2 linked regions of the Homo sapiens genome follow. The protein of the gene in region 2 purifies or fractionates together with the protein of the main gene of each other region. This does not show direct contact. Each region holds a gene or a part of one and is shown on either strand. Other genes may lie near its edges.

The links.
Region 1: the proteins of JPT2 (region 2) and FIGNL1 purify together in Homo sapiens (affinity purification with mass spectrometry; 2 studies listed by BioGRID and IntAct, with this or other methods). This does not show direct contact.

Annotation. Positions count from the first base shown.
Region 1 is NC_000007.14:50,442,868-50,448,268, reverse strand, and holds the end of FIGNL1 (fidgetin-like protein 1), read left to right. Parts: 5' UTR 1-88; intron 89-213; exon of another isoform or gene 214-301; intron 302-971; 5' UTR 972-981; coding exon 982-3,006; 3' UTR 3,007-4,136; downstream 4,137-5,401. UniProt on the Homo sapiens protein: Involved in DNA double-strand break (DBS) repair via homologous recombination (HR). Recruited at DSB sites independently of BRCA2, RAD51 and RAD51 paralogs in a H2AX-dependent manner. May regulate osteoblast proliferation and differentiation.
Region 2 is NC_000016.10:1,673,918-1,682,961, forward strand, and holds the start of JPT2 (jupiter microtubule associated homolog 2), read left to right. Parts: upstream 1-4,361; 5' UTR 4,362-4,395; coding exon 4,396-4,439; intron 4,440-6,445; exon of another isoform or gene 6,446-6,573; coding exon of another isoform or gene 6,574-6,581; intron 6,582-9,044. Other genes in the region: CRAMP1 (protein cramped-like), read left to right, coding at 1-128. UniProt on the Homo sapiens protein: Nicotinic acid adenine dinucleotide phosphate (NAADP) binding protein required for NAADP-evoked intracellular calcium release. Confers NAADP-sensitivity to the two pore channels (TPCs) complex.

The DNA of each region.
Region 1 (5,401 bases), on a different chromosome or scaffold from region 2:
TGTGTACATGCAGAAGTGCACAGTACCTGGAGTGAAACTGCTTGTGTTCGATTTCTGATACCATTCATAACTGGCTGTGTGATCTCAAGTAAGTTCTTTAAGTCTCTCAGCCTCGGTTTGTACATTTGTGTGATAAGGATAATGATAGTTTTCAGATTATTTTCATAGTCATTGCTTGATTTGATTCTTCCAATGGTTCCTCTCACTTTGCAGATAAGAAAACTGAAGAACCAGCTGGGCGCGGTAGCTCACGCCTGTAATCCCAGCACTTTGGGAGGCTGAGGCGGGTGGATTACCTGAGGTCAGGAGTTCAAGACCAGCCTGACTAACATGGCGAAACCCCATCTCTACTAAAAATATAAAAATTATCCAGGGGTGGTGGCAGGTGCCTGTAATCCCAGCTACTTGGGAAGCTGGGGCAGGAGAAGCACTTGAACCCGCGAGGTGGAGGTTGCAGTGAGCTGAGAGCGCCACTGCCCTCCAGCAGCCTGGGTGACAGAGCGAGACACTGTCTCAAAAAAAAATAATAATAAAATAAAAATAAACCATCAGTGATAGTAAAAAGCTCACTTAAGCTCATTCACCTAGTTTTATAGATCAGACTTAAACCTCTTGTTTATTTTGTTTTGCTTTATGTATCTATAGTTCCATTGTTTTTAAAATTTAAAATTAATTTTAAACCTTATGAATGCTTTCCCTACAGATAAAATTATGTAACTAGAACAATTTAACTCATATAAATTATTATTTAATCAAGTCCTTAATTTTGAAGACTTCATATTGATATGTCTTGAATACTTGAAATCTATAGTTAACTAGATATTTCTCTTATAACCTGTCCTTATAAATCTACATTATAAATAAAAAGTCCAGTGTCCCTTCCTTCAGATTAGCAGAAGTTTCAAAATTACATTTAAAGTATTTTCTTTGTTTTCCTTCATACTGATTTTCATTTTTATTGTTTGTTATAGAACCTCTAAAATGCAGACCTCCAGCTCTAGATCTGTGCACCTGAGTGAATGGCAGAAGAATTACTTCGCAATTACATCTGGCATATGTACCGGACCGAAGGCAGATGCATACCGTGCACAGATATTACGCATTCAGTATGCATGGGCAAACTCTGAGATTTCCCAGGTCTGTGCTACCAAACTGTTCAAAAAATATGCAGAGAAATATTCTGCAATTATTGATTCTGACAATGTTGAATCTGGGTTGAATAATTATGCAGAAAACATTTTAACTTTGGCAGGATCTCAACAAACAGATAGTGACAAGTGGCAGTCTGGATTGTCAATAAATAATGTTTTCAAAATGAGTAGTGTACAGAAGATGATGCAAGCTGGCAAAAAATTCAAAGACTCTCTGTTGGAACCTGCTCTTGCATCAGTGGTAATCCATAAGGAGGCCACTGTCTTTGATCTTCCTAAATTTAGTGTTTGTGGTAGTTCTCAAGAGAGTGACTCATTACCTAACTCAGCTCATGATCGAGACCGGACCCAAGACTTCCCGGAGAGCAATCGTTTGAAACTCCTTCAGAATGCCCAGCCACCTATGGTGACTAACACTGCTAGGACTTGTCCTACATTCTCAGCACCTGTAGGTGAGTCAGCTACTGCAAAATTCCATGTCACACCATTGTTTGGAAATGTCAAAAAGGAAAATCACAGCTCTGCAAAAGAAAACATAGGACTTAATGTGTTCTTATCTAACCAGTCTTGTTTTCCTGCTGCCTGTGAAAATCCACAGAGGAAGTCTTTTTATGGTTCTGGCACCATTGATGCACTTTCCAATCCAATACTGAATAAGGCTTGTAGTAAAACAGAAGATAATGGCCCAAAGGAGGATAGCAGCCTGCCTACATTTAAAACTGCAAAAGAACAATTATGGGTAGATCAGCAAAAAAAGTACCACCAACCTCAGCGTGCATCAGGGTCTTCATATGGTGGTGTAAAAAAGTCTCTAGGAGCTAGTAGATCCCGAGGGATACTTGGAAAGTTTGTTCCTCCTATACCCAAGCAAGATGGGGGAGAGCAGAATGGAGGAATGCAATGTAAGCCTTATGGGGCAGGACCTACAGAACCAGCACATCCAGTTGATGAGCGTCTGAAGAACTTGGAGCCAAAGATGATTGAACTTATTATGAATGAGATTATGGATCATGGACCTCCAGTAAATTGGGAAGATATTGCAGGAGTAGAATTTGCTAAAGCCACCATAAAGGAAATAGTTGTGTGGCCCATGTTGAGGCCAGACATCTTTACTGGTTTAAGGGGACCCCCTAAAGGAATTTTGCTCTTTGGTCCTCCTGGGACTGGTAAAACTCTAATTGGCAAGTGCATTGCTAGTCAGTCTGGGGCAACATTCTTTAGCATCTCTGCTTCATCCTTAACTTCTAAATGGGTAGGTGAGGGGGAGAAAATGGTCCGTGCATTGTTTGCTGTTGCAAGGTGTCAGCAACCAGCTGTGATATTTATTGACGAAATTGATTCCTTGTTATCTCAACGGGGAGATGGTGAGCATGAATCTTCTAGAAGGATAAAAACAGAATTTTTAGTTCAATTAGATGGAGCAACAACATCTTCTGAAGATCGTATCCTAGTGGTGGGAGCAACAAATCGGCCACAAGAAATTGATGAGGCTGCCCGGAGAAGATTGGTGAAAAGGCTTTATATTCCCCTCCCAGAAGCTTCAGCCAGGAAACAGATAGTAATTAATCTAATGTCCAAAGAGCAGTGTTGCCTCAGTGAAGAAGAAATTGAACAGATTGTACAGCAGTCTGATGCGTTTTCAGGAGCAGACATGACACAGCTTTGCAGGGAGGCTTCTCTTGGTCCTATTCGCAGTTTACAAACTGCTGACATTGCTACCATAACACCGGATCAAGTTCGACCCATAGCTTACATTGATTTTGAAAATGCTTTTAGAACTGTGCGACCTAGTGTTTCTCCAAAAGATTTAGAGCTTTATGAAAACTGGAACAAAACTTTTGGTTGTGGAAAGTAAGTGGGATACTTGGAATCAAGGCATCTCTGTAGTACAGTCTTCTTTATTTTTTAGCATAGAAAGTTGGGGATGTGTTAATTGTATTTTTAAGAATATATTCTAAGTTCTGTACTTCAAATAATAGCACAGATTTTACATCTGATTGACATAGTGTATGTTAATGTAAGTTTTGCTTTCCAGTGATTACCTGATACGTAAGCCTATTTGAACAAAGTGAGAATGAACTTTTGTTTCTAAGAAGTCTTTATCTTGAAGCTATATAACATGAAAAGTGAGCTCAAATTTTTTTTAGTTGAAGATTACATATAAAGTTGTGTCTGATTAATATTCATCTTTTATTGAAGAAAGTGCCTTCTGATGGCCACATAATTCTTAATGTCAGCTAGTATAATGGTTTACATTTGGACAAAGTATTGCTTAGTGTTATTTAAGTAGATTTAAGATCTCAAAGCTAAAGTGCCAATTTTTACTTTCTTCAGCCAATTTGTTACCTCTTTTATGGTTTTTAATTTTTATCAGGACTAACATTTTCAGAAATAGCAAGGTGTGATCTAGTATTAGATTCACAGAACTGAAAGGTTAATTAAGAATGTTGGTTATTTTCACGGGAGCGTGTGATATTTAACATTAATATTTTATTTGACACTACAGCCTGTAATACTGCTCTCTTTCAAAAACAAGTTTTCAGATTTTTATAACAGACCCATTTTGTTTTATGAAACATGTTCATTACAGAAACATGAGAAAATAGAGATAAGTAAAAAGAATAAAAGTCACTATTATCCTACCACTTTGCGGGACACACTATTAATATTTAAGCATAGATTCTTCCAGATGTTTTGTTTTATACAGCAGTAGGATTGTGTAATGTATTCTCTCTTGTAGCCTATTCTTCAAAGCGTATCTTCACTTTCCATGTTAACATAAATGTCCTTTTATGATTGTCTAGGATTCCATGGATGGATGGAATATAATTGAGTCATCTGGTAGAGCGCATATAGGACAGGACGCTAGGTTGTTTATCTTTTGTTTATTGTAAAGGAACTATGTGGGATGCATTTGGTGATCTTTTTAAAAAATGTATAAATTTCTTGAGTAATTCCTGGATTAAAGAATATGCACTTTTTAAAGCTTTTGGCTTGCATTCTAAATTGTCCTCTTGAAAAAGTAGTTCCTGTGTAAAACTCCATCTGCACTGAATCAGAGCTATGGCAGCATTGGGCAGTAGGCAGTTTTGGTATTTGTTGGCATTCTTTTTGCATTTATTCAAAAAACTGAAGGTAGTGAACGTAGAGCAATGAACAACACAAATATCCTTGGTCTCGTGGAGGTTATATTTAAGTTCTAATGTTTTCTCTTGTGAACAGTGCAATTTGAAATGACAAATTGAAACACTTTTAGTTGTTGAATTTAGACAGTTTGTGTATATAGTTTAAATTTTTATTCTTGGTTTGCCTTCTGTTTTTATGTTAAAAGATTGTTGCAATTTTTAGTTTTTCCCTTTGTAATATGTGATTGTCTTTCATTAGAATTCATTTTTTGTTTTGTTTTGGTTATTTTGAAACAGTCTCGCTGTGTTGCCTAGGCTGGAGTGCAGTGGTGTGATCTCAGCTCACTGCAACCTCTGCCTCCTGGGTTCCAGTGATTCTTGTGCCTCAGTCTCCCTTGTAGCTGAGACCACAGGTTTGCACCACCACACCCAGCTAATTTTTGTATTTTTAATCGAGATGGGGTTTCACCATGTTGCCCAGGCTGCTCTCGAACTCCTGGCCTCAAACGATCCACCCACCTCAGCCTCCTGAAGTGTTGGGATTACAGGCATGAGCCACCACGCCTGGCCTTTTTTATTAGAATTTGGACGTTAAACTTCTTGTCTTCAGTTCTTAGTTATATCTTTTAACATCCTAAAACATTCCACAATATTCATTACTGTCTTTATCCCTTTCTATTTCTATATAAACAGCACTATAAACTTGGTTTCTTTGGTATTGATGTCAAGGAATTCTCTAGTTTTTCTTTCTTGGTGTTTAATTGCAGATCACTCCCACCTTCTTGGGTCTAGCTATTTAGATTTATCAGCATTTGCCCTCTAGCTGTTAATGTTTTATTTAGCTCTGAAATTTGGTCTTAATATTTATTATCAGTTTTTTTCAGTTACAGCTTCTGCCAGCCCTGACTTTAAGCTCCCTTGATCACCAGCCACAGGGCCACTTCTTTCTATGGAGTTTAGAAATTGTGACAAGGAGAGAAAGTCTAGTTGGTTTAGCTCATCTTGGATTAAGCAGAGCCCATGTCTCTCTTGTTAGCTCAAGAAATGGTCTTTCCTGAATTAAGGTCTACTCTGTTAAATAAGAATCTAAACCTGAAAGGAATAGTCAGGATATTTTAAAGCTGG
Region 2 (9,044 bases):
ACAGCATTGATTACATTTCTCGGTTCAATGACCTGGCCCAAGAGCTGTCCATCGCTGAGCCTGGCCGCCGAGAAGCTCTGTTTGATGGTGGTGGAGGCGGCCCCGCTGTCAGTGACCTGTCCCAGTGACCACACGTCCTGGTGGCGGATGAAGCCCTCTTCGAGCTAGAGAAAAATAGATAAGCCCAGCAGCCCCAGAAGATGGTCTGAACAGAGGCATCTCCGCACCCAAGACTGTGCAACGGGCAGGAACGTGGTCACAGAGCTGCTTCCCCACGAGCAGCAGGCAACGGCGTCCAAGGAGACTAGGATGAGTTCTTGGCAAGGGCCAGCGTTAGAAATCACTGTGGTACTAGAGCCGTTCTTCACCACGCCTGGGCCCATGTTAGGGTCTGCATAATGATCCCATTTCAGCCTGTGCTCTGCCTCGATTGTTGTGTTGGACATTCCGGTGGCATTTCCTTCTGAGACAAGGGAGTATGTGTGCCTTGGTGTAGTTGCTGTGCACTAGGAGCTGTGATCTCCCTCTCTGCAGGGAGGCCCCAGCCCCTGCTGCTTGCTTTCTGCCAAACCTGTGCTATGCATCAGCTGTGCCCTCTGTGGACTGTAACGGGCAGGACAGTTGGGTGTGGCCTGGGCTCATGCCTGGTGGTGTCACATCCCAAGGCAGCAAGAGCATGGATACCGATCACAGGGCTGCTGCGGAGTCGTGGGGCCCTGGGCTGGTGCCTCCCCTCCCTAGAGGTTTTGTTCGTACTCTTAACAGGGAGTGGGGGCAGGAAGAGTCCTGTACTATGCAGGTTGTGTGGACTTTACATGGGACCCTGCTAAGCTGGTTGAAAATGTTTTTCTTGTGTTTTAAGAATTAGGAGACATGGAAGAGGAAGAACAAAGTCCCCTCTGTAGTTGGTTTCCTTCCTGTGTCCCTTTGCAAGCTTCCAGGCGATCTAAGGTGTCATTTCTCCCTCCTGGGGTGACCCTTAGGCGCTAATATGATTACAGCGAAGACTTTCCTGATAAGTTCTCAAACTCGATGTGTGACTGTTTGGCACTTGAGACAAACCTGCCTTTGCAGGGAAAGTGTCTCTCACGGGCATTGGTGTGGGCGTGCCTGACATACGTGTTCAGTCCCTTGCATACCTTTGCCTTGAGACTTCTGTGTCTCCTTCCCATTTGGGACACCCAGGTGAGGGCCCAGACATCTGGATGTGGTCAGACCTCACCAAATATATGCCTTCGTGGTGGTCTCCCTCCTTGCGCCCTCTTGGGTGGCCAGCGTTCCTACTGCAGACGGCCCAACATCCAGTCTTTCCCCAGGACAGAGCTAACAAGGGCCCCTTTGCCTTCTCATCCTCAGGAGTTCCAGGCACATGAGTCACCGTCCATCCACATCCAGTGTGGCCTGGAGCTGCTACAGAGGTGTTGGGCAGGCCATGCCTGTGCCGCCATCTCTCCCTTCCTGCCTCATTTCATCCCCCGCAGCAGCCGGGATTGATTGTGCTTTCCTAACCCCCTTGGACCTACTCTCCCTCCTCCCCACCATTCCTCTTCCCCCACATGTGTGGCACGCTGCAGCCCTCAAGGCCAGCCCTGGCCCCTCCACTGCTTCTCTCCCCATCCACAATGGAGAAGGTGAAAAGAGGAGGGAAAGGCCTTTGGTGTGGACAAGCATGTGGACGCCCTCCGTCCTGCAGTCTTGCCAGCCCACCACAGCCACTGTAGACCACAGGCAGGCCGTGTACTGCACCACTGGGAGGACGTGGAGAGGACAGTGAACTTCCAGGCAAGAGCTTCCTTCTTTTGTCTCACGAGTTTTTCTTAGAGCTCTTGCCTGAGCTGGCTTCCCTCCTTCAGACATTGACATGAGATCTTAAGCAAACAGTCCCAAACCTCTTAGGGGTGAAAAAAGAAACATGCCACTTGATTAGGAGAGAGACAGCAGTGTTTGAACTACAGCATCTTTACACTAGCTTGTGTTTTGTGCTACGTATACCAGCTTCCAAAATTAGCATCTCATTGAGCCAGAGAAGACAAGGAGATCTCCCTCTGGGCATCTGGCTTTGCTGCGTCTCTAGAGGGTTAGGATACCAGGCCGAGTTCAGGCCACTGCTAGCTTTCTCATACTCCCACAGGCTAGACCAGAGATGCCAAGTCCCAACAGCACTGAGCTGTGTGCACTGTGCCAGGGACAGGAGGGTTTGTGAACTGCCTGTCAGGGTACCTGTTAGCCCCTGACAACTCAGTGGGGTGAAGTTTTGGAGGTCAGAGTCTGCTTTCGTAGGCTCTTTAGACAGCACCTACCACTTGGTTCTCCAGCGTAGACTCCTGGGAGCAGCCAACTGCAGCCATTGCCATCCAGTGGGGAGATGGGTTAGGGAGGAGGACGGGCTGACTCCTCTCCTGTAATAAAGCTGACAAGAGTTCTAGAGGATTCTGCTTCTCTAGTAACTAGACAGGTGATACGCATTTGCTTGCCACATTAAGGGAAAATGGTGTCATTTGTTGCAGAAAAACAATGGATACATTTTCTTCTGGCCTAAATGAATATTTATGTGCAAACATAGGCAACTGTTAAAGGCTGGAATTTTCAAAAGATCCAAACAGAGACTTCCTGCATCTTCTGCCTTTCCAACAGAAGCGGTGATCGTCTAAGTATGAGCCTGTGGCTTCCTTTGTGCATTTGAGCATGCTGTAATTAAGATGAGATCAGTTTCTTAGAAAAAGCTTTCCTGAATCCCTCTGACGTTGCCTGGGATCTTTCTGTTGATTCGTCTTTTCTGGAGATTGGGACAGAGCATCTGTGGTCCAGGGAAGTTAGTCCTCTGGCCTCAATTCTGTTGTGGATGTGCAGTGATAAGCGGGCATTGCGTGCCTCGGGGGATGCCTAGTTCGTGGCTTCCTGGCTGTTTTGTCCTTCTGTGTCTTGTAGCTGTAGGGTGCCAGCTCAGGGAGTGGGGTGTTGGCGGCGTTTCCGCGGTTGGCCTCCTTGCTTTGCCGCACCTCCAGGTTCTGGGCATGAGAGGCCGTGGCCTCATTTCTGGTGGATAACCTTTTTAGTTTAATAGCATCTTTAATTAGATCACAGCATTGAATTCAAAATTTCTTCTGCAAAGAAAGTTGTGGGGCATAAGACACCGGGAATGAGGGAGGAGGAAGACAGTTGTGTTTTCTCTTTAAACCTTGAGCTCTAGCCGATGCATTTGTCAGGAAATACAGCACTTTGTCTTAAGAAAACAAGGAAGGAGGCCGGGCGCAGTGGCTCACGCCTGTAATCCCAGCACTTTGGGAGGCCGAGGCGGGCGGATCACCTGAGGTGGGGAGTATGAGACCACCCTGACTAACATGGAGAGACCCTGTCTCTACTAAAAGTACAGAATTAGCCGGGCGTGGTGGCGCATGCCCATAATCCCAGCTACTGAGGAGACTTGAGGTAGGAGAATCACTTGAACCTCAGCGGCGGAGGTTGCAGTGAGTCGAGATCGCGCCAGTGCACTCCAGCCTGGGCAAGAAGAGCGAAACTGGGTCTCAAGTTAAAAAAAGAAAGCAAGGAAAGAGTAATTTACAACGAAGGAAAAAAACCCACAGCACACCCTTCGCGGCTGTCAGCGCTCTCCTGATGTCACAGTGGCTGCGTGTCCTTGGGGTGGGTGAGGTGTGGGGAGCCCAGCCCCTGGCCCTGCCTCCCGCGCCCCGCTCCCCTTCTCTCTCTTACTCGGTTAAGCCATAGCGAGGCCTCCGCTCGTTTCAGATATGAATTTGTTTTATAGATTATAAATATGCATATACAGTGTATGTATAAAGCAGAATGCCTGCCTTTCCTGGTTATTTTTTGTACCATATTGTAAATTATATTATTTATTCTTTACCAATTTTGGGAATAAAAGGTGTTTTGGTTATTTAATATAATAAGAGCTGTTAAACTTCTGTTTAAATTTCCAGTTCAACTTGTAAATGTTTTTATTGTGCATAAATACATACTAATGTTGATCTAAGGACTGTCGTTTGTGCCTGTTCTTCAGGGCCGCGCGCCCATGCCCGCAGTCCCTGGTCGGGCAGGTGCGGCCCAGGTGCGGCCCCGCGGTCGGCTCGCGGGCTCCCGCAGACCGGGCTTCCTCCCGAGGGCGCGGCCGTCCCAGGGCCCGCCCGGCCCGCCGCCCAATGCGAGCTCCCACCTCCGCGAGCGGCGTCGCCTTCCCCAATCGGCTGCGGGCGCGGCGCCGACCGTTCAAAGCCTAAGTCGTCGGGGGTGGGCGTGAGGGGCGGTGGCCGCGCTGAGATAGGCTGCGGAGGGATGATTGGCGTCTTGGCGCCCAATGGGCGCTGGCGGGCGGCCTTGAGTACCTGCGCTGGGCGGGCGGGAACGGCGCGCGGCGAGCTGAGGGTGGCGGCGGTCGACATGTTCCAGGTCCCGGATAGCGAGGGCGGCCGCGCCGGCTCCAGGTGCGGCGCGGGGCACACGGGAGGCGGGCGGATAGCGCGACCACGTGGCGGGAGCGGGCCAGCCCAGGGCGTCCACCAGCCGTGTGGGGTTGGGGTGGGGTTGGGGGGCAGGGCGACCTCACAGAGGCCCTCGGGGCCGCCGCCCGCCTTTCTGCGCCGCCGCCAGACCGAGGCCCGAAGCCCGAGGGGCCGCTCGCTGAGGCCCGGGCTGTGGAGAGCTGCCCGCGACCGAGGCCGAGGGCGGGGAGGGGCGCCCGGGCTCTGGGAACAAAGCTGTGTGGAGGGCGGGCTGCGCTCCCTCGCGCCTGGGCGCCCGCGTTCCGTGTGGTGCGTTCCGTGGGGGGTTTCCTGGGGGCGGGGTGTGCCCGTGGGTGCGGCCCATTTTGTCTGTGGGATGCGTGTCCATGTTCCCGGGGGGGTGTCCCTAAGGGGTGTGCGGCGATGTGTTCGTGGGGGGTGTCTGGCCATGCCCCCGCTCCTGTGCGTGTGGCCGTGTGCCCGTGTCCCTGGTGTGTGTGTGGCCTGTGCCCTGCCCATGGCCGCGCTTCCACTAGTTCATGTGAGTCCACTTCCTTTGGAAAGTGCCAGGGCGTCTGGGGAAGAGTCAGTTCTATCTCCTGGGAAGGTGGATGGCGCTCCTGGGCTTCGCTGTAGGAAGAAGTGGATTGGGACGAAGATATCCTGACTCAGCTTTAATAGCCAGGAACACTGAGCACACTTTTCTTATGTTTTTGAACTTTTAAAGCACTCTTTGGGTATTGGGACTCGCATGAATTAGAGGGACAGAGCTTACAAGGTCTTTCGTGCCACTTGAGCAGTAAACTTGCATTGTGAAGTTTGGGTCTTCAGATGCCTGAGGTTTTCTGTATGATGAGCCCCTCTGTGGCACAGCCTCGCCAGAGAAGTAGAAGAGAATATGTGTGCCATGACTGTTAAGACCAATACTATATTGCTTCTCAGCCTTTTGGCTATGATCAAGTGAAGACAAATACTATATTGAATAAATACTAAGTAAAAGAATTGCTCCAACTTGCTAAAAATAAAAACCCTTTAGATTGGCCGGGCGTGGTGGCTCACACCTGTAATCACGGCACTTTGGGAGGCTGAGGTGGGCGAGTCACGTGAGGTCAAGAGTTCGAGACCAGCCTGGCCAACATGGTGAAACCCCCGTCTCTACTAAAAATGCAAAAATTAGCCAGGCGTGGTGGTGTGTGCCTGTAGTCCCAGCTACTTGGAGAGGCTGAGACAGGAGAATCACTTGAACCCAGAGGCAGAGGTGGCAGCGAGCCAAGATAATGCCACTGCACTCCAGCCTGTACGACAGAGCAAGACTCCGTCTCAAAAAAAAAAAAAACCCTTTAGATTTGAGGGAGTTAGGTCAGTATTCAGTAATACTTGTAACCAAATAATTACCCGTGGCAGGGTGCAGTGACTCAACGGCTGTAATCCCGGCACTTGGGGAGGCCGAGGCAGGTGGACCACGAGATCAGGAGATCGAGACCATCCTGGCCAACACGGTGAAACCCCGTCTCTACTAAAAATACGAAAAAATTAGCCGGGTGTGGGGTGGCGGGTGCCTGTAGTCCCAGTTCCTTGAGAGGCTGAGGCAGGAGAATGGTGTGAACCCGGGAGGCGGAGCTTGCAGTGAGCCGAGATCACACCACTGCACTCCAGCCTGGATGACAGAGCAAGACTCCGTCTCAAAGAAACAGCCCTTCATCCATGGAACAGTGATTATTATGCCTAGGTCTGCACCGATGTGGGACCAGGAGTTTAAACTAGTGCTCAGAGCGAATCCGGTTTCTGGTTCCTGGTGGCCAGAGTTTTGCACCACCCACATCAGTGGGGGGAGGGACTGCATCCCCAGCCCTGTCCCAGTTGTGTGCATTTAGTACGTTTCCTTTTTGTTTGTGCTGCCTGGCACTGGCTGCCCGGTAAATGATGGTGTTTATTATCACCCTGAGCGACGCCGATGTTTTTATATTGACTTTCACGCTCCAGAAGTTAGCTGCACAGGGCCGCACTAAAGTCATACTCACACTACCCTGGGGGACTGGTTTCTGGACAAGGTGTTGAGAAAGGGAGAAAACTCTTCCTTTTAGGATGGTGAGGAAGGAAAGCCGGTCTGAACTGGATGATGAGGTATCACTGGAAGCTTCTGCTTGGGGTCCACCAGACGCTGCACATTTGCCACTCATCTGAACGGGGTCGAGTCGCAGGGCGGGCGCCTTGTAAGCGTCACATTTAGTTTTGCTGTGAAGCGAGTCAGGTGGTGGCTGTAAGATTACCTAGCCAGGTTTTCCTCTCCTGAGACCTCACATCTCTCCTTTCCTTGCTGAGGGATTGTCTTGTGTTAAAGGGGTTTCGTAAAAGCGTTATGCTTTAGCCGCGATTAACCTGAGGTCTTCCTTCAAGCTGGAACATTTCTATTTGTAAGGAATTTAATCCAAGTTTATTTCTCACTGCTTCTCTCTAAGCCTGACCAGTCCCCTCATCCTTTCTGAAACTCGGGGACAAACTATTAGAGAGGGTCAGGAGCATGGAGACCCCCGAGGAGGGTCACACAGCTTTTCCCTACCTCTCCAGTGCTGCAGTCCACTCCAGCTGTGTGAGGTTTTTCTTCTCCTGTGCGCTTGAGTTTCTCTTGTGTGTTTTGAATATCTTCACTGAAATATATGGAAGGGGTACCACAAAAGGCAAAAAATAATTGGGAAGCACCCCCCACTCACATTGTGAATTTGTCCCCAAATGTGTGAGCTCTAGCGTTCCCCCTCCCCCTATTAGTGTCATAGTGGTAAGTGCCTGTAGCCTAGAGAAAGCCACACTGCGCCATTGTTGTCGGGCTGTTTTTGTTGAAAGGTCTATTGAACGCTCAGTTCCATTCATCCGAGACCCCTTTGAGGCAGCCCAGCCCTGCGGTCTGTGTGAAACCTGCAGTGGGACCTGTTGCCTTTGTGACCGAGATAGCCGCTGCCCCTTGCCTGGGGCTGGGCCTGTGTGCGCCATAATTTCTGCTAAAACCGTCTTTGGTACCACTTTTTTTTCTTTGCTTGTTTTCAAATAAAATTCAGAAAAGCACATAGAACAATATTAAATATTGTGTTTCCATCACCCCAAAGTAACACTGGTCATTGCAAGTAACTACCACTCACCTCCTGCGCCCATTGGTCCCCATTCCACATGGAGGCCACAGACTCAATTTGGGTTTCACCTCTTCCAAATTTTGGAGTCCCGATGGCACTAGGCGTCTGTCACGTCACTCACACAGACACTGAAACCACCTGTGCAGAGCTCTAGCTTTCCTGTTTAAACTTGAAGCTCCTCCGGGGTAAGGACTTGCTTTCCTCTATCTACGGCGTCTGGGGAAGGATTGCCAATGATAGGTGCTCGAGAGATGTGCAAGTTGAACTGAAGCAAGGGTGAAAGGCAGAGGAGACAGGAGACTGTGAATGTAGGGAATGTGGGGTCGGGAAAGAGTCCTACAGAGCTTGCAGTCAAGGCGAGTCTACCTGGAATCAGATCTGACAGTTTGTAGCACCTTGAGGGCTTGAGAGAAAAGCCATATTTGAAATAAGTCAGTAAAAGGAATTATAGCTCATGCTCAGCTCACATAAGACTTGATAAATTCAGTTCAGTTCGAAAGATTGCAGGCCTTCATCCCTTATTTCCAAAGAGAGAACTGTAGAGACCCGTGCATGTTTAGACCTGCTACACTATCCAAGAAAAATCGCAGAATTGGCTGGGCACAGTGGCTCACGCCTGTAATCCCAGCACTTTGGGAGGCCGAGGCGGGCGGATCACTTGAGGTCAGGAGTTTGAGACCAGCCTGGCCGACGTGGTGAAACCCCGTCTGTACTAAAAATACAAAAAAATAGCCAAGCACGGTGACGCACACCTGTAATCCCAGCTACTCGGAAGGCTGAGGCGGGAGAATTGCTTGAACCTGGGAGGTGGAGGTTGCGGTGAGCTGAGATCGCGTCACTGTATTCCAGCCTGGTAACAGAGTGAGACTCCATCTCAAAAAAATAAAATAGGCCGGACACAGTGGCTCATGCCTGTAATCCCAGCACTTTGGGAGGCTGAGGTGGGCGGATCACCTGAGGTCAGAAGTTCAAGACCAGCCTGGCCAACATGGTGAAACCCCGTCTCTACTAAAAATAGAAAAATTAGCTGGGCATGGTGGCGGGCATCTGTAATCCCAGCTACTCAGGAGCCTGAGGCAGGAGAATCGCCTGAACCCAGGAGGTGGAGATTGCAGTGAGCCGAGATTGTGCCATTGCACTCTGGCCTGGGCAACAAGAGCGAGATTTCGTCTCAAAAAAAAAAAAAAATGTAGAATTAGGAGGGCTGCGTGATTCAAAAATGGATATGGAAGTCAGATGGCCTTATGGCCACTCTAAGAGCACCTCACCTAAAATCTTGTTAAGCCACGCCCTCCCACCCACCACCCTTTATTTTTTTTCCTTTTGGTGAAACAAGTCCTCACTCTTTCGTCCAGGCTGGTGTACAGTGATGCAATCATGGTTCACTGCAGCTTTGACCTCCTGGGCTCAAGCCAGCCTTAGCCTCCCGAATAACTGGGACAACAGGCGCATACCACCACAC